Linked DNA regions of Homo sapiens. The protein of the gene in region 1 purifies or fractionates together with the protein of each later gene. This does not show direct contact. Each region holds a gene or a part of one and is shown on either strand. Other genes may lie near its edges.

What was found.
Region 2: the proteins of RGS13 (region 1) and SLAMF1 purify together in Homo sapiens (affinity purification with mass spectrometry; 2 studies listed by BioGRID and IntAct, with this or other methods). This does not show direct contact.
Region 3: the proteins of RGS13 (region 1) and LIN9 purify together in Homo sapiens (affinity purification with mass spectrometry; 2 studies listed by BioGRID and IntAct, with this or other methods). This does not show direct contact.

Annotation. Positions count from the first base shown.
Region 1 is NC_000001.11:192,631,715-192,639,147, reverse strand, and holds the start of RGS13 (regulator of G-protein signaling 13), read right to left. Parts: upstream 3,002-7,433; 5' UTR 2,831-3,001; intron 1,559-2,830; 5' UTR 1,488-1,558; intron 985-1,487; 5' UTR 945-984; intron 1-944. UniProt on the Homo sapiens protein: Inhibits signal transduction by increasing the GTPase activity of G protein alpha subunits thereby driving them into their inactive GDP-bound form. Binds to both G(i)-alpha and G(q)-alpha.
Region 2 is NC_000001.11:160,644,036-160,651,973, forward strand, and holds the start of SLAMF1 (signaling lymphocytic activation molecule isoform b precursor), read right to left. Parts: upstream 3,010-7,938; 5' UTR 2,911-3,009; coding exon 2,835-2,910; intron 1-2,834.
Region 3 is NC_000001.11:226,299,156-226,306,178, forward strand, and holds part of LIN9 (protein lin-9 homolog), read right to left. Parts: intron 5,209-7,023; exon of another isoform or gene 5,107-5,208; intron 2,051-5,106; coding exon 2,018-2,050; intron 1-2,017. UniProt on the Homo sapiens protein: Acts as a tumor suppressor. Inhibits DNA synthesis. Its ability to inhibit oncogenic transformation is mediated through its association with RB1. Plays a role in the expression of genes required for the G1/S transition.

The sequences.
Region 1 (7,433 bases):
AAGGCTACTTTTTAATAATTCCAGCAAAGACTCTGTGTACACTAATAGTAGCCCTGTGCTCAGCTACATGACTGATTCAGTGAGGGTTCTTTGGTCCAAGCAACTTATTAGTTAGGTGACATTGAAAAAGAAGCAATATATATAGATATAATGTTATTTATATTTCTGATTTATCTACTCCTACTAGACTTTAAGTTTCCTAAATTGTTACATTCGAATGTTATTTGATGATTACATATAAGTAGTTGTTTATATGTTGGTTAGCATTCTAAGTCAAACATTTACAGATTTATTAAATTATGGAATACAAATAGAATATAATGTCATAAAAGCATCAATGATTAAATTGCAGAAAATATTTAGTGACAGAATTGTGTATGACATGTGTTATGCATAGAATAAATAGACCCTAAGAGTTGTTATGCATAGAATAAATAGACTATAAGAAGTTCTCTGGTATTCCTGTCCTTTAGGAAATGGAACTGGAGACTGGACGCTGTTCCAGTGACTAGAGTTCTGCTCCTGTGCCTGGAGCCTGGTGCCTTCCCGCCTGTATTCTAAGATTTCTGGGACTGAAAGTCCATCCACATGTTTGTGTTTCTCTCTATTGATTACTACTGGATTCACACGTACCATGTACCACTATTTTGTTGGAATATCACAGAACCCCCCACCCCCATCCTTATAACACTCTCTACATTGAAACAAAGAGATAAATTAAAAAATACTTAACCCAGCTTCAGGTACAAAAGGTCAGATTGACCACCTGAGTTTATTATCTCTTCCAACCCAAACACTAATAATATTATAGTAAAGGAACATGTACGGCTTAAACTGAAGGAAAAAGGAGATTAACCAAGGGGAAAAATAATGACAAAATATTCCAAAGTAATTTTGGAAGATGGAAGGCAGATGCTCAGAAGTAGAAATTAAAATTCTCATACCTCTAAAATGAGAAGAGAAAAGGCAGCGTTAGAATATCATCTGATAAAATAAGAAAATATAATTCACAGTCTGAGGACAAAGAATTTGCAAAATAACCATTGGTTTAAAAAGAAGTATCTACAATCCTACATTCAACAATATTTATCATTAAATAATACATCTCAATCGACAGTTTAATAGCACCAATATAGAGTGGCAGAATGAAATCCTCTCACATTTACAATTGAGAACTTCTAAGAAATATCCTTGGTAATTCCATAAAGGGAATGTTCTAATTTTTTACAAAAGTAAAGTTCTTTAGGATAAGGATTTGATTAAAACATCCTATTGATAAATTTATTTTGTTAGTTAAATCCAACCAAGGGCATCTTTAGTTGTACCCTTAAAATTAGAGTTCAAGTAGTCAATATGGATAAAAATAAAAAATAACTTTAAATATTTTATAGAACTACAAATCTACTTTGGCAAAAAGAGAATTCCCAGTGAAACAGTGATCTAAATTGGCATGACGTAGAACTGATTTAAATTGTGGATAAACTCACCAAGCTTCAAATAAACAATGATCATTTTTTTCTCATGTTGGTGGTATAATATGTGGAAACATTCCATTGACCTAAAAATAAAATAATAACAAAACCAAACAAAAACAAAAAGATTATTGTGTGCTTCCTGGAGAATGCATATTTGGCAAAGATTACTGTAAATGCTCTTAAGTTTTAAGTAAATACTTTTTCCACCTCGGAAATGCTGGATTATGGTTATTCCCATTTTTATTTATTAACTCTTTATCTAAAATTGTGTTAATATCATGGCTTATTATAAAAATTTCTTTACTGTTTTAATTTGTAATTTTCCATTACTTTTTATTTAAATAATCTATATTTATCTTAATATTGTGTATTAATTTGCTTTCCTTTTTTGTTTTTCAATACCCTCTTGGTAAAACTAGTGTGTACTTTTACAATCGAAACATAGAGTGTTTAGAACAAGTTTAGGTCTCCACGATGATTTTGCCTCCACTGTTTTCTCCTGATAATTATTTGAAAGAAATACATTTCACCGATAGAATCTAATTCTCAGAGTGATTATAAATGCATTGGTAATGGATTGAGTTGTATTAGTAGTATGCCAGAATTAGATTTGTTTCCTCCATTATTTAAATGAAATCTTAAAGTATTATGAAAATAAATAAATTTTCTTAAAGCAATTCTGTCTGTTTACATATATCTGCATTTAAATATGTTTCTTTATTTTATGATATAGCATGTTACATAAAATTTAGTAAAATTTGGAGCAATTTATATTTTAGTGAGCTTTTGTTGACCACAGCACACAAATTTCTTGTCCTTTAAAAAATTCAAGAAATTTGTGCATAGTTGTGCTTAAGCATAACATAAAAGAATAAAAAAATTCTACAAAATCAAGATTAACAATGTTTCAGATAAACCTTATAATAATCCACACCTGGCTTCAGTACAGTTAACAAAGGATGGAACTAATAATTTGGTAATGCATGATTTTTGAAACAAATAATTCAGCTATGTCTGATTTTATAATATGTTTTTATCTAAACATATAAAATGAAAAACATTTAAAATGAAAATATACACAAAAACATAAAATGAAATAATATACTTTAAAACTGTAGCATTTCCTCTGTTGCCCAACTTAGAAGATTTATTTATATAAGGAGTGACTCTAAGTTTTGTTTTAAATATAGAAAGCCAGGCAAAAGAATATGTGTTTGTTAGTTTGTCTTTTTTTCTTAGAAAAACCTCTGTTAACACTCCCAGAAGTTCTACCATTGAAATCAGCATCTGCTAGTGATTTATAGCAAGCCAATAGTCTTGTATTTATCAACTATTTTATAGAATCTCATACTTACAAATATATCCTGTCGAGCAGTCCACCATGCTAAATTTGATCTCCTCTTTGTTATGATCCGTTTGAAATCAGGTTCTGAAATTTTGTGAGACACCCAGCATTTTATTTTTCCCAGAGTAAAAGGATTTTACTGTCTCTATAATTACCTTCGATGGCACTCTGGCCTCAGTATGAATGTTCTGTTTTTACACACACGTATCTATGCAAAGAGAGGTTTTGTTGAATATGGAAAGTAGTGCTGTAGGACTCCAGTGCATTACTGATAAAGAGGTTTTATCTAACATTATCAGACCATCTGAAGTGATCAGATGATTGGAAGCAGCAGCTTCATGAAATCTTCAAAGTAATACTCAAATCTTTTTCTCCAAAATAATTTTTCTAGTTTTAGAAAATGTATAGTCTAAAGTAAAATTCCCTTTTAAAAAAGACAGAGAACTGAGTACAAACACATAGGACATCACTGCAAACACATGTTAGCAAATGGTTGAGAACTATTAAAATCAATCTGTTTGTAATAGATTACTAGGGACTTTTAACAACTGAAGGATCTAAAAAAGTATCTTTTCTAGTTATACCTCTCTAGTTCCTTCAACTGGTCCTCTACAGCAGTTCTGGACTCCGTTGTTCTACAGTTTGTTAACATGCCTTCAAAATCTGAATTGAACACAGTGCTTAAGATAAGGTCTAATGAATACAGAATATGGTAAGATTGTGAATGCCCTTGTCCTGGATTTACTCCAATTGTGTGTGTGTGTGGGGAGGGGTGGGGGAGTTGGGGGGTTTGGGGGGAGAGAGAGAGAGAGAAACAGAGAGGTAGGAGTAAAGAAATGCTAGAATAAAACAGCAGTAAAGAAGATCAAAATGTGGTTGATGGAGTGTTTCTTAAAATATTTAGGGGCCCAATGAGATAGAAGATTAACCTTACTTGTCTTTTATAATTTTGAGATTCAAACCCAAGAAAATTGAATTTCTCAAACCTGAGAGATAAGTTTGGGACTAGAAAAGGAAAGGAAACTTTGGAAAGTCAGAAGCTGCGTAGATGTAGCAATAATGTAGGAAGTGAAGGGCAGGTTAGCCTCAGCTTGGGAGGATCTGGGTTGTTTGTGGATAGCACTCATTTTCTCTGGGTGCTAGGTGTGCGATTTCCTCCCCACTCAGGACATTTTGGATGCTGGATCTCTTCAGGAAATCTTCAGTGTCATAGTCAAGACTTTTCCTCACCCCAAATAATTCATTTTTTTGGGATTTGGAATGTTTGCTCTTTCTCATGGTGTGGATGCAAGGAGCTGGCAGGAAGATTCTGGAAGTAACACCCTGTGCGAGTGTCAGTTTCAAAGCTTGTTTAATGGAGTCAAACATGAGAATCTCCCTACAGAGTAAAACTTAAGTATCGACAGGGACTGAAAAACAAATAAATCATAGAGTGAAGAGTAACAGCACGAGTAGGTGGAAATTCCTGGAGGAATTCAAGAGCAATGTGTAGATATTTGTGGCAGATTTCTAAACATGGTTTTGTTTCTCTGAAAAAGTGTAGTTCAAGTTCAGTTTATGAAATCATAGCAATATAATGCTTTGTACGGCACATAGGTGGATCAGACTAATTCAGAGCTGTCAGGTTAGGGCAGGTAACAGGATTATGCTTTCGTTGGTGCAGCTTGGGAATGCCCTTTCCATTGAAAGGCTGTCCTTCTGATGAACTGATCTGCTTACTCTAGAGCACTTTTACTATATTTCAATTTCAGCCAATGTAAGTCCAAAGTAACACAAGTTCAAATGTGCACAATTAAAAATCTTTAATATTTTTATGTTGAAAGTTCAAAATGAACTTTACAAGAGCAGAAAAATGAAGTATTAGAAATTATAAATTCAGAATTTGCCATTTATGTCTTCTACAAAAAGTGGAGAAATATAATTACTGGTTAATGTTCGTGATGACAGCTTAAGAAATAAGCCTACTATTTTCAGTGCATCCTATTTATACTATATAGTGTTTGCCATTTGTTCAGAGGGTGGCTCTTTTCAATATATTCTAGAAGCAAGATAAACTCTTGGACACTGGGGTGAATTGTCTGGTGAAATGTATCCAGTAGGCAGTGGTTTGTGCCAGTGTTTGGAAGAAGACTGGCTTCTGCTCCTGCTTTCCATGGACGCTGATCTGTCCCTCTTAGCCTTTCAGGTCTGTCCTCTCTGCCTTCATTTTCTTCCAAGCTTCTTTGCAGCGCATTCTCAGTCTGTCTTCATACACTCATTGTCCGCATCTTGGAGTGGACGACTCAGAGACTTGACCAGTCTCCCGTCCCCTCTGGTTTGCTGCCAATTAGAAACAATCTAACTTTGGTTTCTGACTTGTGTGAACCCAAAATATACCGACAACAAAAATTAGGAAGAGATTACTGAGCATTGAACACTATTGTTAGCATAAAATAAACCTCAGTAGCAATTAAAGTTAGTTACCAATTCTGTGTGCATTTATTCAGATGATTTGCTTTAAAGATGTCTTTAATTATAATCATGGTCCTGTTATGCTATAAAGTTTAGTCACTAACTCCCAATCATTCTTAGTTCCCTTTTGGTAGCTGCTTTAAATCCATTCTCTTGGCCCTTCCAGAAAGTCGGCAGTGCTCTCAGGTTTCAGATCTCCAGCATGTAATTGAAAAAACCAGTGGTCCTACTTGGTTTCTATTTTCTTCTGAGCACTTGGTGGATTGTCTTGTCCTTCCTGACTAAATTCTGGGGAATTCATTCAAATCTTATTGTTTCCACCAGTGTATTTGGGGTAACATTAACATAGGAAAGTGTTCTTTTCCCGGAAAAAAAAAAGGAGACACTCCACAGTTGTTTAATTTGCACTGAGATGAGTCTATTAGCTCTTTTGTACTTTCACATTGTTTGATCTGTGAAATTCTCTAAGGATGGGGTTAAGGGCACGTCCCTTTGAAGAGGATTTGCACTGGCTCTGTCAGGCAGCCCAGGCACTTCTCTAACACAAGACTGCTTTGTTATTTTCTTAGCTTGGGTCTCCTGGACCACACAGGTAGGGTAAATTTAAATTACAGACCTGGTTTTATGCTGAAATAGACATGTTCCTGTCATCAATTTTTGTAGGTGACTTGTTTTTTTTCTGTCTGCTGTTTCACTGAAGGTATAGCAGTTCAAGAGCCCCCGGCTCATATTAGGACAGCCTTTGATTTTGTTTCCTGGCTTGCAACAGATCTTAAAAGCCAGATCTCTAGGTTACTGAGATTAGCAAATGCTGAACTCAGCTAAACTTTAAATGCCAGTTTATCACTCTGATTTAGGATTCCCTCTGTTTTTTTCTTGATTTCTCTTAGTTTTGGCAAGCTTGCCTATGCATTTAAATGGGGTTGTTACATATTTTTTTTTAGCATTTCTGGATGTCTGGTAGAGAGAAGATTTTCAAGATATGTCTCGTCTACCATGCTTTCCTTTTATATAAGATAATGTTATATACTCATTTTAGATAAAAGTAAATGCAATAAAATGTCAAGGAAATTGGAACTTTAGCATTTCCTTGTTATCACAGATGGAAAGCATCGTTTGCTTCTTTAGATGCGGAATGCTTTGAACATACAAGGCCCACTGATGTGCAGTTGCAAAGCTGAAGCCTGTTTCCAATCACCTAATCAACTCACTATCCCTTATTGTTTAGATAAGCCTGTCCTGTTCTGCCATGTGCAAAGTATATAAATTTTCTACTATAGAAGTACAGAACAAACATACTTGTGCCACATTTCCGGTTTTTTTTTTCTTATCACAGAAATTAAAATGGTTTTTCTGTAGATCACCATTGAAATACTTTTTGTCTTATTCTTGAAACAAATCTATCCTCAGGACTTACGTGGTGTCTGGTGATTGAGGGCAGTAGATGGCTAGGTAGTGAATCAGAGGCAGGGAACATTTTAAAAGAAATAGGTACCTCAGTCAGCTGATAGGAGAGACTAAAAGAGCGCAGAGCTCAGAATTAGCCTGCATTCCTTCTCCCTGCTTTACCAAAGGAGTCTCCCACTTTTCTCATTCATGCTTCAAATGCATATGTGGACATAGCATTCAGACTGATGTAGTAGATGCTCAATAAATATTCAAAGAATAGATGGATATAGTTTTTTTTTCCCAACAGGATTTATCCAAGCTAAAAACTACCCTAATGTTCATTTTAACCAATTTTCACTTAGATAAAAATTATAGGGTGAAGTTTGGGAAGGATTATATTGTACAAGCTTCCCATATCTCATACTTTCCTAAGAAGTAGTTCTGCCTCTCTGACTGTAACCTTTTTGTAACCTATAATTTGTGTAGTGGTTAATGAGATATATCTGGAGATGCTTTGTAAGTATAATTTACACAAATATATATTTTTATGAGGCATGCAAATTTAAACAATGGTGTCCTTGTGACTTAGTCAAACAAGGAACTAGAATAAAATACAAGGCAAATGTTTTTCTTTAGGATTATGACACTATATCTTAAAACCTCTGAAAGATATGATAATGCAAATAAGATTAGATAAAACAAGTTTAGTTTTGTAGAAAAGGCAAAGAATTTTAAAAATTGCAATCCCAGAAGCTTCAGAAACCTACTTTGGT
Region 2 (7,938 bases), about 32 Mb from region 1:
CATTTGCATGATGAAAAAAAGTTTTCATTTTCCAAATTCCAGGTCAAATACTTCTTATATGCCCTCTACGTTCTTCTGTGATTTTTATCAGTCTCTCACCTTTTGGACATTTCTATACTTCAATTTATTCCAATTCAATTCAACTCATATTTTTCAATTATAGATAGCACATTCTAATTTTTACCATGGGACCTGGATACAAATTTTGGCATTCTCTCCACCCCTGCTTCCCAAACATAGGCTTGTCCAGTTTTACTCATTGAGGCCTCTGGAGTCAGGCAGCTATGTGAGCGCAGAGAAATTGCTAAACTACTCTGTGCCCCTTTCCTCATTTATAAAGTTGTAATGGTACCAATAATACATACATTTCTTATAGGGTTGGTGTGAAAATGAAATGACTGACACACATAAAGCATTTAGAACAGTGCCTGGTATATGGCAAGTATGCAGTATATACCAGTATTATTCACTCAACAAATATTTGTGGACAGGCTCTCAGTACAGACACAGTGTCAGGTGCTGGGCAGTGGCTGTTGTTCATTTTGTTTTCCCCACACCTTGCACCCTTGCACAGTGGCTGCCACATCATGTGTCCTTAATAGTTGCTGAATGGGATCATTCAAAGTCAAATCTATGGATTAAACCAATTAGCCCTGATACTCTGATTTCCAGTCCAGTGAGGGAGACAGTGAAAGTGACAGCATCACATCACAGTATTAATATTTTTGAGAAATAGAAGTGCCTAGATTGACATCTTGGGATAGAATGGGCCACTGAACACGCAAGGTTAGGCCAAGTCTAGAACCCACGCACTTGTCCCTCACCTTCCCCCAAAGTGTGTGAAGGGGGTGCAGAGGAACTGCATGGAGGAATAAAAAAAACTCATTGACATAAGGTCATCAATTATAACAAATGTACCATCCTGGTGGGGGATATTGATAATAGGGGAGGCTATGTATGTATGGGGCAGAGGGCATATGGGAAATCTCTGTTCTTTCTGCCCAACTTTGCTGTGAACCTAAAACTGCTCTAAAAAATAAAGTCTATTAAAACAAATCTCATCGGGGGAAATGAAAAATTCACTTTACTTGGGGAAGGGACATGTGGACTTTTTGATTTTTACAATTCTGACTGGGAATTAGAAGTTGAGCTGAGTAGAAATGAGAATGGGAGTGGATGCCAGTTTTACAAGAATCAAGCTTCTTGCTTGGGCAAATCTGTCATGACTAACCTGCCCCATTTGCAAAGCATTTCTGTCTGGGTTTTATTGGGGCTTCACAAAAGGGTGTGTATTTAAAAATAAAAACACTGAAAAACTTTTGTGAAGATTCAAAGAAGAAAACATGCAATGAAGTGAGCAGCCTCCGATTGGATAGACTTGCCTTGTGGGGCTGGGTTGCTTCTCCCTGACCGGCGACTTCCAAAGCCTCAATAAGACGAGCTATTGGTCAGCAGTGCCTAAGATGCTATGGGCCAGGCTGGCCAAGAGGCTAGCAAGCACAGAGATGGAAAAGTCCAGTTCACAGTTCAGCACCATCACTCCATCACACCTTACAGTCACCAAGAGGTGCTCCAGAAATGGTGCAGTCACAAATTGGTTGCAACAACGGAGGCTTGGCTTTCCCTGTGACCACTTAAAGTGGCTCGATTTGGTTTTCTGAGCCCCGAGCTCAGTTCTTCCTCCCCTAGACCTTGGGAAGTACGAGCCATGGATCTGCAGATTCCAAAAGAAAGTGGGCTGAGCAAGCCCTGTTCGTCTGGCTGTCTGGTAAAAGACACATCCATTGTGCAGCACCCCCACATCCCTGGCATATCACGGTGCTTTTCCTGGAAAAGTCCATATTGGATTTGCGGTCTTGAAAACCCCAAGCTTAAAACACCCTGGGCCTCAGGATTTCCCCCCGTGTCCGTAATGCCACCTCTTCTACTCCAGGCTACCTCCCACAGTCTAAACAAATAAGCAGAAGGAGATTCTCACCCCACTCACACAGGCAGTCCAAAGTCCACTTCTTGCTTGGCTTTTTCTTTCTCAAATACCTTTTCTCATAGCCCTGATACTTCTAAACAGAAAGCAATAGCCTGCCTTGGGAAGAAGATAGACAGAAAGACAGGAACAGAGTCCAGATCCAAAGGTAGCTCTTGTCTGGCCTTCCTGCTGGAGCTACTCTCTGAGGGTTCCCAATTTGCATTTCCCACATACTGTAACCAGCCCTAGCCTTCAGAAATCCCAACTTCTTCCCTCTTGCTTTCTTGGACCTTCTCTTCCAAGAAAATACACACCAGTATGACCGCACTGTGGCCACTGCTGGTTCTCAGCCAAAAGCCTGGAGTTTTCACTTCTACTCTCTCTTCCCACTCTAGCCAATGCTTTCTGTTGACCCATGCTCCTGGTTTGTCAGCCTGCATGTGCACAGATTCCCTCCCAGGGCAGGGATGTAGGGCAAATCTTCTCCCAGAGCTCAGTCCATCCAGCTCAGTCTCTCTAGGCTGGGTCTTTGCCAGAAGATGCCCATGTAAAACCAACCACTCAAGCAAGACTTCTACCAGGGCCTGTCACCCTAAGACTGGTCAGAAAAGTGACTGGAGCCTTTGGCTTAGAGCCCCTCATTTCCTTGGAAACTGGGGTTGGTGGGGCTGAGTCTTGGAAACCCAAGGGCCCAGGAACTTATAATGTTCCTTCCTCTTTGAAAGAGGCAGTTGAAACTGACAGCCAGTCCCTAAGGAAGAGTGACCAAACACAATACCCAGCCCTGCACCTTCTCTCCATCCACGAAGATACGCTGATTCCTGGCAGCTAACATGGGACTCAAACCATCAGGCAGATGAACACTCACCTGTTCCGTAGCTTGCCCCAAAAGCCAGGGAGAGAAACAGCACGAAGGTCAAGGAGAGGAGCCCCTTGGGATCCATCAGCCAATGAGGAGAAGGAAGGGATCCTGGCCGGAGCCTGGCAGCTGCTCACAGATGCCAGGCAGAAGCAAGCTTCGTGTCATGCAGCAGAGGCTGTCTGATTTATGTATCAGGAACCAGCAGGTTCCTGAACCCGCTTCCTGTATCACTGGGACTTTTTCTGCTTGTGTCTTGAGGATTGCTCATCTCCCATGAGGCTTTAAATCACTTTTTTGTTCTCAAGAAGCAGGCTTCTCAAGAAGCCAGGCACTTAGCCTATGGGAGCCAGGAAAGGGGGTGTGTAGTCACCTCGGCCAAAACCCGGCTTTGGGCAGAAACATGCGCCCCAGCTTCTTTCCTTAGCTGTCTCCAGGAACCGGATGTTGCAGATTCTCTGAGCAGTTCTCTCCGGTAAGTCTTCTTGGATTGCAAAGAAAAGATGTTTCATTGGATCACTCCTCAAATTTGGCAGTTCACAGCTGAACTTAGATAACTGCATTTTGATGAGCTAATAGACCTCTTACTTCTGTTTTATTTCATAATTTCAGATGACACCTCAACATGCAGTCTGGTGCAGGTGCCACTGTCACACAGAGATGGGAAGGGCATGTGCGGGTCACTTGGAAGAAACCCTGTGACCCCGATGAGTGCAATGTGGTATAATTTAGTAGCCCATGCTCCTAGTTTGTCTTCTTGCATGTGTGTGGATTCCCTCCCAGGCAGGGATGTAGGACAAATCTATCCCAGAGCTCCATCCTTCCAGCTCAGTCTCCTTGTTGTGTGTGTGTTTTCTCCTCTAATTTTTAACGTCTGTGGGTACATAGTAGATATACATATATGTGTGTGTGTGTGTGTGTGTGTGTGTGTGTGTGTGTGTGTGTGTATGTATATATATATGTATGGGGTATGCATATATTTGTATGGGGTATATGAGATATGTTGATAGAGGCATGCAATATGTAATAATCACACAGGGTAAATGGGATATCCATCACCTCAAATATTTATCCTTTGTGTTACAAACAGTGCAATTATATTTTTATTTTTAAATGTGCAATTAAATTATTATTGACTATAGTCACACTGTTGTATTATCAAATACTAGTTCTTATTCATTCTTTCTATTTTTTTGTACCCATTAACCATCCCCACTTCTTCCCCAACCCCCACTACCCTTCAGCCTCTGGTAACCATCCTTCTACTCTCTATGCCCACAAGTTCAATTGTTTTAATTTTTACCTCTCACAAGCAAGTGAGAACGTGCAAAGTTTGTCTGTCTGTGCCTGGCTTATTTCACGTAACATAATGATCTTCAATTCCATCCATGTCATTGTGAATGACAGGATCTAATTCTTTTTTAGCTGAATAGTACTTCATTGTGTATATGTACCACATTTTCTTTATCCACTCATCGGTGATAGACGCTTAGGTCGCTTCCAACCTTGGCTATTGTGAATAGTGCTGTAATAAACATGGGAGTACAGATATCTCTTCAATATACTGATTTCTTTTCTTTTAGGTGTATACCTACCAGTGAGATTGTGGATCATATGGTAGCTCTATTTTTAGTTTTTTGAGGAACCTTCAAACCATTCTCCACAGTGGTTGTACTAACTTATATTCCCAACAACAGTGTACAAGGGTACTTTTTCTCCACATCCTTGTCAGCATTTGTTATTACCTGTCTTTTGGATAAAAGCCATTTTAATTTAATTGGGGCTGTGTTGTATTCTGGGAGTTGCCTTTATTTTGGAGTTTGTGTCTAACTTTTCATTGAGGAGAAGGAACTAGTATTGGCAGAAGGAGGATCCCGCCCTTTTTCATGAGTTAAACTATAAGAATGGGATACTGGAAGTGTAACCAATGCTCACAGGGAGACTTGAAAGAGTAGGGAAGTGTTTTTAGAGTCCATTGTAACAGGTCATAGGCACTCTCTGATGGGCCTCCCCATGGGGATCAGGTAATAAAAGCTGGTGAGATATGTGAACTTTATCCTCACTGTTTTCTTCCTTCCTTTCCCCAGCACTCAACTGTCCTCCTCACAACTATTCCCAGTGGTGTGTGCTCGAGTCAGCATGTACCAACTCATAAAATTGTTAAATTTTCAGGAATCTGGATGGGCACAGTGGCACGCCTGTAACCCCACCATTTGTGGAGGCCTAGGTGGGAGAATTTTTGAGGCCAAGAGTTTGAAAATAGTCTGGGCGATAGAGTGAGACCTCATGTCTACAAACAATTTTTTTTAATAAAAATAAAAAATAGATTTTCAGGAATCTTGTGAGGTGCTTGATGAACATGGCCATTATTAAACATATAAAATTAAATTAAATTATATAAACTTACAGTTAAGCTGGGCATGGTGGTACATGCCTGTAGTCCCAGGTACTTGAGAGGCTGAAGCATGAGGACCCCTTGAGCCCAAGAGTTTGAGGCTGTAGTATCTTTATAGCAGTGTGAAAACGGACTATCATGATCATGCCTGTTGGTGTGGTTTGCCGCTGTGTCCCCACCCAAATTTTATCTCGAATTGTAATCCCCATAATCCCCAAGTGTTGAGAAAGGGACAAGGTGGGAGGTGATTGGATCATGGGGGCAGTTTCCCCTCCATGCCGGTCTTAAGACAGTGAGTGAGTTCTCACAAGATTGGATGGTTTTATAAGGCAGTATTTTCTGCTCTTGGCTGCTCTTCTCTCTCCTACTGTGATGTGAAGAAGGTCCTTGCTTCTCCTTTGCCTTCCACCATGATTGTAAGTTTCCTGGGGCCTCCTTAGCCATGTGGAACTGCAAGTCGATTAAACCTTTTTCCTTTATAAATTACCCAGTCTTGGGTAGTATCTTTATAGCAGTGTGAGAGTGGACTAATACACCTGTAAATAGCCGCTGCACTCCAGCCTGGGCAACAGAGCAAAACCCTGCCTTTAAAAAAAACTTCACAACTAAATAAATTATATTAAATAGAGGGAATAAAATCTCAAAGCTCATTGTTTCTTAATTATTTTATGACATTACTGATATCTATGTTCTTGAGGTAATTGACATCTCTTATGTGTCTACAGTGGAAATTAAATACTGGAACATTGGTGCTTCTGGACCTCTCTTCCCCACTCTGCATTCAATGGCATAGTGTTGGGAGCTTGAAACTGGCCATGGTGAGAGTTTATGCCATGGAAATCAGCAAGCAATATAAATCAGAACTTTACTGTTTTGTTGATTGTCTAAATGTAAGAAAGTAATAGAGAAAACATAATGATGCAGAGTAAACTTAAACATGTGCCATGACTATGGCCCTTACATTAGGATTAGCATAAAAAATTGAGGAAACATTTTTCCAGTATTCAAAAACTATCATCTGATTCAGCAAAAAGTCACTAGTGTCACTGATGAGCAAGTGATGTTCCAACATATGTTTTTGTTGTTTCACATTTCTTTAACTTCAAAAAAGACATTAACCAACATTCATGTTGGAACTACATTCCTTTGTCACTTGTAAACACAGTTTGGCTGTGGATATGAATTAAGCCAATATGAAAGCAAACAGCCTGTGAGATCTGTGGCTATATGGAATTTACAATAAAGAGGATTGTACATTTTATTAAAATACAATAAATTTTATTTTATAAATTGCGTGTTACACATTCTTCGTATAAGCAAAATTTATAACAAGCTCATTTACATATATGCATATATTATTTTTCAGAGATCTGGCTCTTAACCATTTACCAACACACCACTGTTACAATAACTGAGAATCCAAATGGTGGAGTGAATGGCATACTGTCTACGTATTCATAAAATATCAGTTGAAATAACTAAATGATGTGAGAATATTGGCATCCTGTAAAAATGGGAAACCAATGATCCAGGTCTGATTTCAAGACTGGTGTTCTCTCCTCAAGCTGCACGGCTCCTGGAATGCATGCTGTCTATTCATGTCAAACCTTCCTCTCTCAAAGACAGACACTTATTCTCTTGTTTACTTTGCCCTTCCTCTCATTTCCAGAATTAGACCTTCTCTAGACTCGCTATGAGGCCTCTCCACTCTGATCTCCTGGATCCCCTCTACACAGATAACTGAGCTAATGCTAGGCACTATATGAAGAGTTTTCCTGTTTGGTGCAATCTAGAACTAAATAAAAACATACATTGAATGAGGGTCAGAAATGGTTTAGATGAAGGTTCTGAGGTTCTAGAGTGGATTCTATATAGAGTCCTCTCTGCCCCCAAATTCTTCTTCACCTGGAACGTCAGAATGTGGACTTATTTGGAATCAGGATCTTTCAGATGTAATTAAGGTAAGAATTGAGATGAGATTATACTGGGTGAATCAGAGTGATCCCCAAATCCAATGAGAGTAGTGCATCTTTCTAAGAAATAGAAAAAGGACACACAGAGACACAAAGAAGATGGCCATGTGAAAAGACAAAGCAGAGACTAGAGCTATGCAGCCACAATTCAACGAACACCAGAGACCACCAGACGCTGGAAGAGGCAGAGAAAGATTCTCCCCTTGAGCTTTCAGAAGGAGCAGGTCTTGCCAATATGTTAATTTTAGACCTTGTGCCTACAGAACGGTGGGAGAATGAATTTCTGTTGTTTTAAGTCATCAGGCTTGTGATAATTTTTTACAGCAGCCACAGGAAACTAATACAGGACCTGAGGGGCAATGTGACTAACCAGAGATTTGCAGTTAGTACATTTAGTATACTGAGCTGCTTCCTTGAGCTATTAAGAGCAGATGTCAACAGACCAACAACAGAAGATATACAGGTGATAGTGCCTTGTAGTTACAAAGCCATTTTCAAAAGCCTTCACATTCACAGCCTTATTTGATCCTCCTAACAGCCCTGCAAAGGAGCTGGTGGTGTTTGTAAGGCAGGATCTGGACCAAACTTGGGAATCCTGACACTGATCAGAGCTCTTTCCTTTTTCCTGGTGAGTATCACCATGAATACTCAAGAGAATAAGGAGGAAGGAAATCTTGCTATTGAACTCCCTGGATGCCTGGGGTTTCCACAGTGTTACTTCATTGATCTTGGTAGCAGTAAGAAG
Region 3 (7,023 bases), about 34 Mb from region 1:
CATTTTCTCATTTTTTCCATAAGAAATGTACGTTACTTATATAAATGATTTATCAAGATGAATGAGTGCCGGGTGCAGTGGCTCACATCTGTAATCCCAGCACATTGGGAGGCCAAAGTGGGAGGATCACCTGAGGTCAGGAGTTCAAGACCAGCCTGGCCAACATGATGAAAACCCATCTCTATTAAAAATACAAAAATTAGCCAGGTGTGGTGATGCATGCCTGCAGTCCCAGCTACTCAGGAGGCTGAGGCACAAGAATCACTTGACCCAGGAGGCAGAGGTTGCAGTGAGCCAAGATATTGTGCCACTGCACTCCAGCCTGGGCGACAAACCGAGACTCAGTCTCAAAAAAAAAAAAAAAAAAGGCAGGGGGGAGAGAAATGAGTTTAATATTGGGAGAAAAAGAATAATGGAATAATTTTTAAGAATCACAAAAGACAAACAAACTGGGGTGTTCTGGAAGACAAATTGTCTTCTCAAGCTAGAAGGATTTAATTTGGTAAATCACCAATCCAAAGCACAATATAGTAGCTTTAAAGACTAAAAGTACTTTGAGAATATTTAGCTTGGTTCCAAATTTATTGACCTACCAGAATCTTAATCAAGAGGTAAAATTTTAAAGAAACTATGTTAAAAAGGTTAGTCTAATGTACCTGCCAAAAGAAATAGTGAGACCAAGGAACATGTCAAACTTTTTCTTAGAATGAGAAAAGTACTATTATTCTTTTATTTTTATTTCAAGACATTATTACTTAGAAAGCAAGATTCTTTTTTTTTTTTTTTGGAATTTGAGACAGAGTCTTACTCTGTCACCCAGACTCCCAGACTGGAGTGTGGTGGCGCGATCTTGGCTTACGGCAATCTCTGCCTCCCAGGTTCAAACAATTCTCCTGCCTCAGCCTCTCAAGTAGCTGGGATTATAGGCACCTGCCACCACTCCCGGATAATTTTGTATTTTTAGTAGAGATGGGGTTTCACCTTGTTAGCCAGGCTAATCACGAACTCCTGAGCTCAAGTGGTCCGCCTGCCTCAGCCTCCCAAAGTGCCGGGATTACAGGCGTGAGCCACCGTGCCCAGTGAAAGCAAGACTCTTAAAAATAAGCTATTACGGGCCAGGTGTGGTGGCTCATGCCTGTAATCTCAGCACTTTGCAAAGCTGAGGCAGCAGGATCCCTTGAGCCCAGGAGTTCGAGACCAGCCTGGGCAACAAAGTGAGGCCTCCTCTCTACAAAAAATAAAGAAATTAGCTGGGCATGGTAGCATGTGCCTGTGGTCCCAGCTACATGGGAAGCTGAGGCAAGAGGATCACTTGAGCCCAGGAGGTCGAGGCTACAGTGAACTGTAATCACATCACCACACTCTAGCCTGTGTGACAAAGCGAGACCCTGTCTCAAAAAATAAATAAACAAAAAATCTGCTGGGCACAGTGGCTCACGCCTGTAATCCCAGCACTTTGGGAGGCCAAGGTGGGCAGATCACTTGAGGCCAGGAGTTTGAGGCCAGCCTGGCCAACATGGTGAAATCCCGTCTCTACTGAAATTACAAAAATTAGCCAGGCATGGTGGCACATGCCTGTAATCCCAGCTACTCAGGGGGCTGAGGCAGGAGAATCGCTTGAGCCTGGGACGCAGAGGTTGCAGTGAGCCAAGATTGCACCGTTGTACTCCAGCCTGGGCAACAGAGAGAGACTGTCTCAAAAACAAACAAACAAACAATTATGCTAACATATAGGTCAGCACAGTCGTTTAACAAATGCTTTTAATCTAAATATTTATGGAATGTTTAATTAGAAAGGTTTTTAATCAATAATTTTAGAAATTTTTAAAAATAATTTCTAACAACTGAGGATCAATTCTCCTATAAAAGCATATTAATTTAAGGTTATCAGTGAAAACCAATACTGAAAAGCTACAATGAATCATAACTTAGAAGGAAAATGGAAACACTATATCCAGATTAATTTAACAAATTAGACTTTTAGCTATGGTATACCTAAAAATGCTATACTTCTTACCTTTTAAACTGACAAGGGCTTTTGCTGAAGAGCCTGCAATTAAAAATAAAACAAATCAATAATTATTTCATAACCAAAGTGAGAGAAAAAGACCTTGGTTTGGGGGTAAAAGTGATCCATTTAGTTTTAGTAATGTTGAGTTTGAAGAGATGGTGGAATGTGCAATTCGAAATATCTGGCAGACAATTCAAACTATAAACCAGAACTCAGATAAAGAAAGAACTGGAGAGAGACATATGAGAGTCTTGCTGAAGTTGTGAGAACTGGAGACCATTCCAGGAGAAGAAAGTGAAGAAACAGAAGAAAGAGGAAGAGTGGGGACAGAGGTAATTTTGGATCCTCATCCAGGCGTGCTGTGGTGCTGGAAGAAAAGAGAAAGGGAACCGACATCCATTGAGGCAAAGACTGATGTAGTAATGGAGTGGAAAAAAACAGGCAATGGAAATGATTCAGGGACTGTCAGAGCAAGCAATAAGTCCCTTGAAAGTCTAGAATGCAGGTATATGTGATACTTCAAGATCTAAGCTGGAAAAGGGAATACAGAATGGCCAAGAGGGGCTAGAATAAAGTTGGAGGGGTCCACTGGATAAAACAAACTCCAGTGTACATTAGAGGCCAGGTATGATGGCTGACACCTGTAATCCCAGTGCTTTGGAAGGCCAAGGTGGGAAGGCTAGCTTGAGGCCAGGAGTCTGAGACCAGCCTGGGCAACATAAGGAGATCCTGTCTCTAAAAAAATGTTTTTAATTCACTGGGTATGGGGGCACGTGCCTAAAGTGTCAGCTACTCAGGGGGCTGATGTGAGAGGCCTGCTGGAGCCTGGGAGGTTGAGGCGGCAGTGAGCTGTGACCGTGCCACTGCACTTCAGCCTGACAGACAGAGTACGACTCTGCCTCAAAAAAATAAAAAAGACATTAGAATAACAAGGAAGCTCCTCATACATGCAAAATCTAGACTGAATCTATATTATTAATAAACAACAGGGGATTCTGTTGCAGGTAACCCACTTTGAGAAACATCAGGCTACAGGTTCTGGTGTGAATGAATTATAGGATCTATGGGTAGGGAAAGTAGAAAAATCAATAGAGAGGCCGGGTGCGGTGGCTCACGCCTGTAATCCCAGCACTTTGGGAGGCCGAGGTGGGCGGATCACAAGGTCAGGAGATCAAGACCATCTTGGCTAACACGGTGAAAACCCGTCTCTACTAAAAACACAAAAAATTAACTGGGTGTGGTGGCGAGCACCTGTAGTCCCAGCTACTCGGGAGGCTGAGGTGGGAGAATGGCGTGAGCCCACAAGGCAGAGCTTGCAGTGAGCAAAGATTGCGCCACTGCACTCCATCCAGCCTGGGTGACAGAGTGAGACTCCATGTCCAAAAAAAAAAAAAAAACAAACCAATAGAGAAAGAAGCTTTTTGAGAGTGAGAAAGCACTAAATTTAAAAATCTCAGAATTGGATGTATACATTGCAAAGTCCAAGTCATCTGAAAAATAATAATTAAGGATGATCTCAGGGGATTAAATAAAAAAGAACATGAACTAGGAACAAAAATCAGAGAGGACGGATTAATCCTCCTTGCTATTTAACAAAAGCAGCTATGATTTACATCTCATATAAATGGATAACAGACTTAAAATGAGAAGCAACAGATAAAGTATGGCAGTTATGAAACACTTCATCTCAGATCCTTAAACACTATGCATCTCTGATCACTAAACCTCAACTGACTTTTTCCTCCACAGGTCTGTGTAAGAGACTTGTGAAACAGACACCTATTAGCATTAAAGACACTTACTTTCACTCTACTCTCTTGCCCAGATGTGAAGAATAGTTAACAGGACACCATAAAAGCTTCTGCATGGCAAATGAAGCTTAATGACAAAAGGCAGTAAAGTCATGGGGGTGAATGACATAAAATCTTGCTAAAAAGTCTCAAACAATGAAACACAACTGTAAAGCAGCAATAGTAGACAATACACACATCTGTGTACCAAAAGATATGCAGTGCATTTGAGAAAAAGTAGTAACCATTCACTCACTGAATATGTAGAGTACTGATGGCATGCCAGTCCCTACCTGCTCTAGGCAATGGGAATACAACAGCAAGCAAAATAGTCAAAGTCCCTGCTCTCATGGAATGTACATTCTAGTGATGGGAGGCAAACAAAAACAGCTATCGAGTAATGATAAGCACTCTGGAAAAAATAAAGCAGAAGAAGAAGAATACGCAGGGTGGGGATGGAGGGAAGGAAAACTATTTGTATATAAGGTGTTCATGATGAGCTTCTATGAAAGGTGATGCTTAAGCAGAGATCTGAAGGAAGAGGTATATAGGCCATAAGAATATCCACTCCTGCTCCACGAAGGCAGGAACCATATCTTGGGGATTCTGACCAATCACCTTTAACCTTTTTTTTCTTTTTCGTTTTCTTTTTTCTTTTTCTTTTTTTGAAATGGAGTCTCACTCTGTCACCCAGGTTGGAGTGCGGTGGCGCAATCTCAGCTCACTGCAACCTCCACCTCCCGGGTTCAAGAAATTCTCCCCACCTCAGCCTTCCAGGTAGCTAGGATTACAGGTGCATGCCACCATACGCAGCTAATTTTTGTATTTTTAGTAGAGACAGGGTTTCGCCATGTTGGCCAGGCTGGTCTCGAACTCCTGACCTCAGGTGACCACCCGGCTCGGCCTCCCAAAGTGCTGGGATTATAGGCGTGAGCCACCGCAACCGGTCCTTCTTTCCTTTTTCTAGATGCAGGATAGCATAGTGGTTAAGAAAACAGGTTCTAGATTGAGACTAGCTATGTTTGAATCTTGGTCCTGACACTTTCTTGCATGCTACCTTAAGCAAGTTACTTTGCCTCTCTGTGCTATTGTTTCTTCATGTGTAAAATGAGGATTAAATGAGTTAATACATGTAAAAGTGCATAGAACAATGCATATATTACACAGTTAATTTTGATATAATGCTGTTAGTATTATTTTGAGCAATCAAAAAATAATAGGTTAAGAACATGGATTTTTCAGTCAGGCGAATCTGATTAAATTAGAATCTTGCTCTAACGAGGTGTTCATTAATCCAAAGATTCTACCCTTCTTAGTTCATAAGCATGATGATTGGGTTTTCATACTCATGTGTGAGATGTGTCTCTCTCAAACTTTGTGAAAAGTCAGCACATGACCCATCTGATGTGGAAAAAAAAATTTTATTGAATGCCTACCATAAGCACTGTTAGGGGCGAGGGTTACCCCAAAGAACAAGACAAACAAAGCCTCTCCTCACAGGAAGCTTAAACTCTAGTGGAAAGAGACATATATATATAAAACACGTACATAATAATTATAGCTCATGATAAAGGAAATAAACAGGGTGATATTGGTGGGGACGGGGGAATTACTCTAAGTACTAGCTACCTTACTTTTGAGTACAGACGGTTTCTCTGAGGAGGTAACATCTAAAAAACTAGCTGTGAGAGAGCAGGAAATCAAAGCAATGAGTCTGGGCAGAAGAAACAGGTTAAGTCCTAAGAAGGGAGGAGGGGTGACTGTGCTTGCATAGGGAAGAATGGTATGAAAGGGCAGAGGTAAGCCAGGTGTTATGCATGGAACTGGGAATGCAATTAAGACAGTACCTGCTCTGATGGGGCTACTAACCAATCACATAAACAAATACAAAACTGCAACTGTAATAGCTGCCACTAGGAAGTTACATAGTAATACAAAAAGATTTAAAGAATATGGGCCTGGCCTGGCACAGTGGCTCACACCTGTAATCCCAGCACTTTGGGGGGCTAAATGACTTGAGGGCAGGAGTTCGAGACCAGCCAGGTTCTACTAAAAATACAAAAGTTAGCCGGGCTTGGTGGCACACATCTGTAATCACAGCTACTCAGGAGGCTAAGGCAGGAGAATTGCTTGAACTCTAGAGGCGGAGGTTGCAGTGAGCAAAGACTGCACCGCTGCACTCCAGCCTGGGTGACAGAGCAAGACTCCATCTTTAAAAAAAAATAAAGATAGGCCCTGCATGGTGGCTGAAGCCTGTAATCTCAGCACTTTGGAAGGCTAAGGCAGGAGCATCGCTTGAGGCCAGGAGTTTGAGACCAGCCTGAGCAACATAGGGAGACCTCGTCTCTACAAAAAAAAGAAAAAAAAAAAAAAAAAAAAAAAAAACCTTAGTTGGGCATGGTGGTACATGCCTGCGGTCCCAGCTACTGGGGAGACTGATGCCGGAGGATCTCCTTAGCCCAGAAGATCAAGGCTGCAGTGAGCCACGATCATGCCTCTGCACTCCAGTCTACACAACAGAGGGAGACCCTGTCTCTTTAAAAAACAAAAAACAGATTTAAAGAAGACATAATTTAGTCAGGGAGGATGGGAAATGGCTCTCTGAAGAAGCATAAAATGGGATCTAAAAGACAATTAGAAGTTAACTGAAAGTAAGGGGGGTGTGGGGGGGTAGCATTCCAGGTTGAGAGAACAGCATGTGCAAAGACCCTGGAGAAAAGGGGAGACTGGCGAGTATCGGGAATGAAAAAGGTCCAATTTACCCCAAGGGATAGAATGAGGGGACAAGTGGTAAAACATAAAGCTGAGAGGTAGGGAGCAGCCAGACCACAAAGGGTCTTATAGCTACTAAAGGGTTTGTAACAGGAGGATGACATACATTCGTTTTGAAAGGATCCCTCTCGCTGTGTGTTTGTGGGAAGGGGGCTGAATTAATGAGAGGCTGAGGTAATTGGTAAAGAGAAGAAATGGTAACAGTTTGGGCTATGCTGATGGTAAGAAATGGGTAGAATTGATAGATATTTAGAAGGTAAAATTTACAGACTTAGTAAAGGCTTAAATATGGGAAGTGAAAGGGAGGAAAGTGGCTGGGGGCGCGGTGGCTCACCCCTGTAATCCCAGCACTTTGGGAGGTTGAGGCGGGTGCATCACCTGAGGTCAGGAGTTTGAGACCAGCCTAGCCAACATGGTGAAACCCCGCCTCTACTAAAAATACAAGAATTA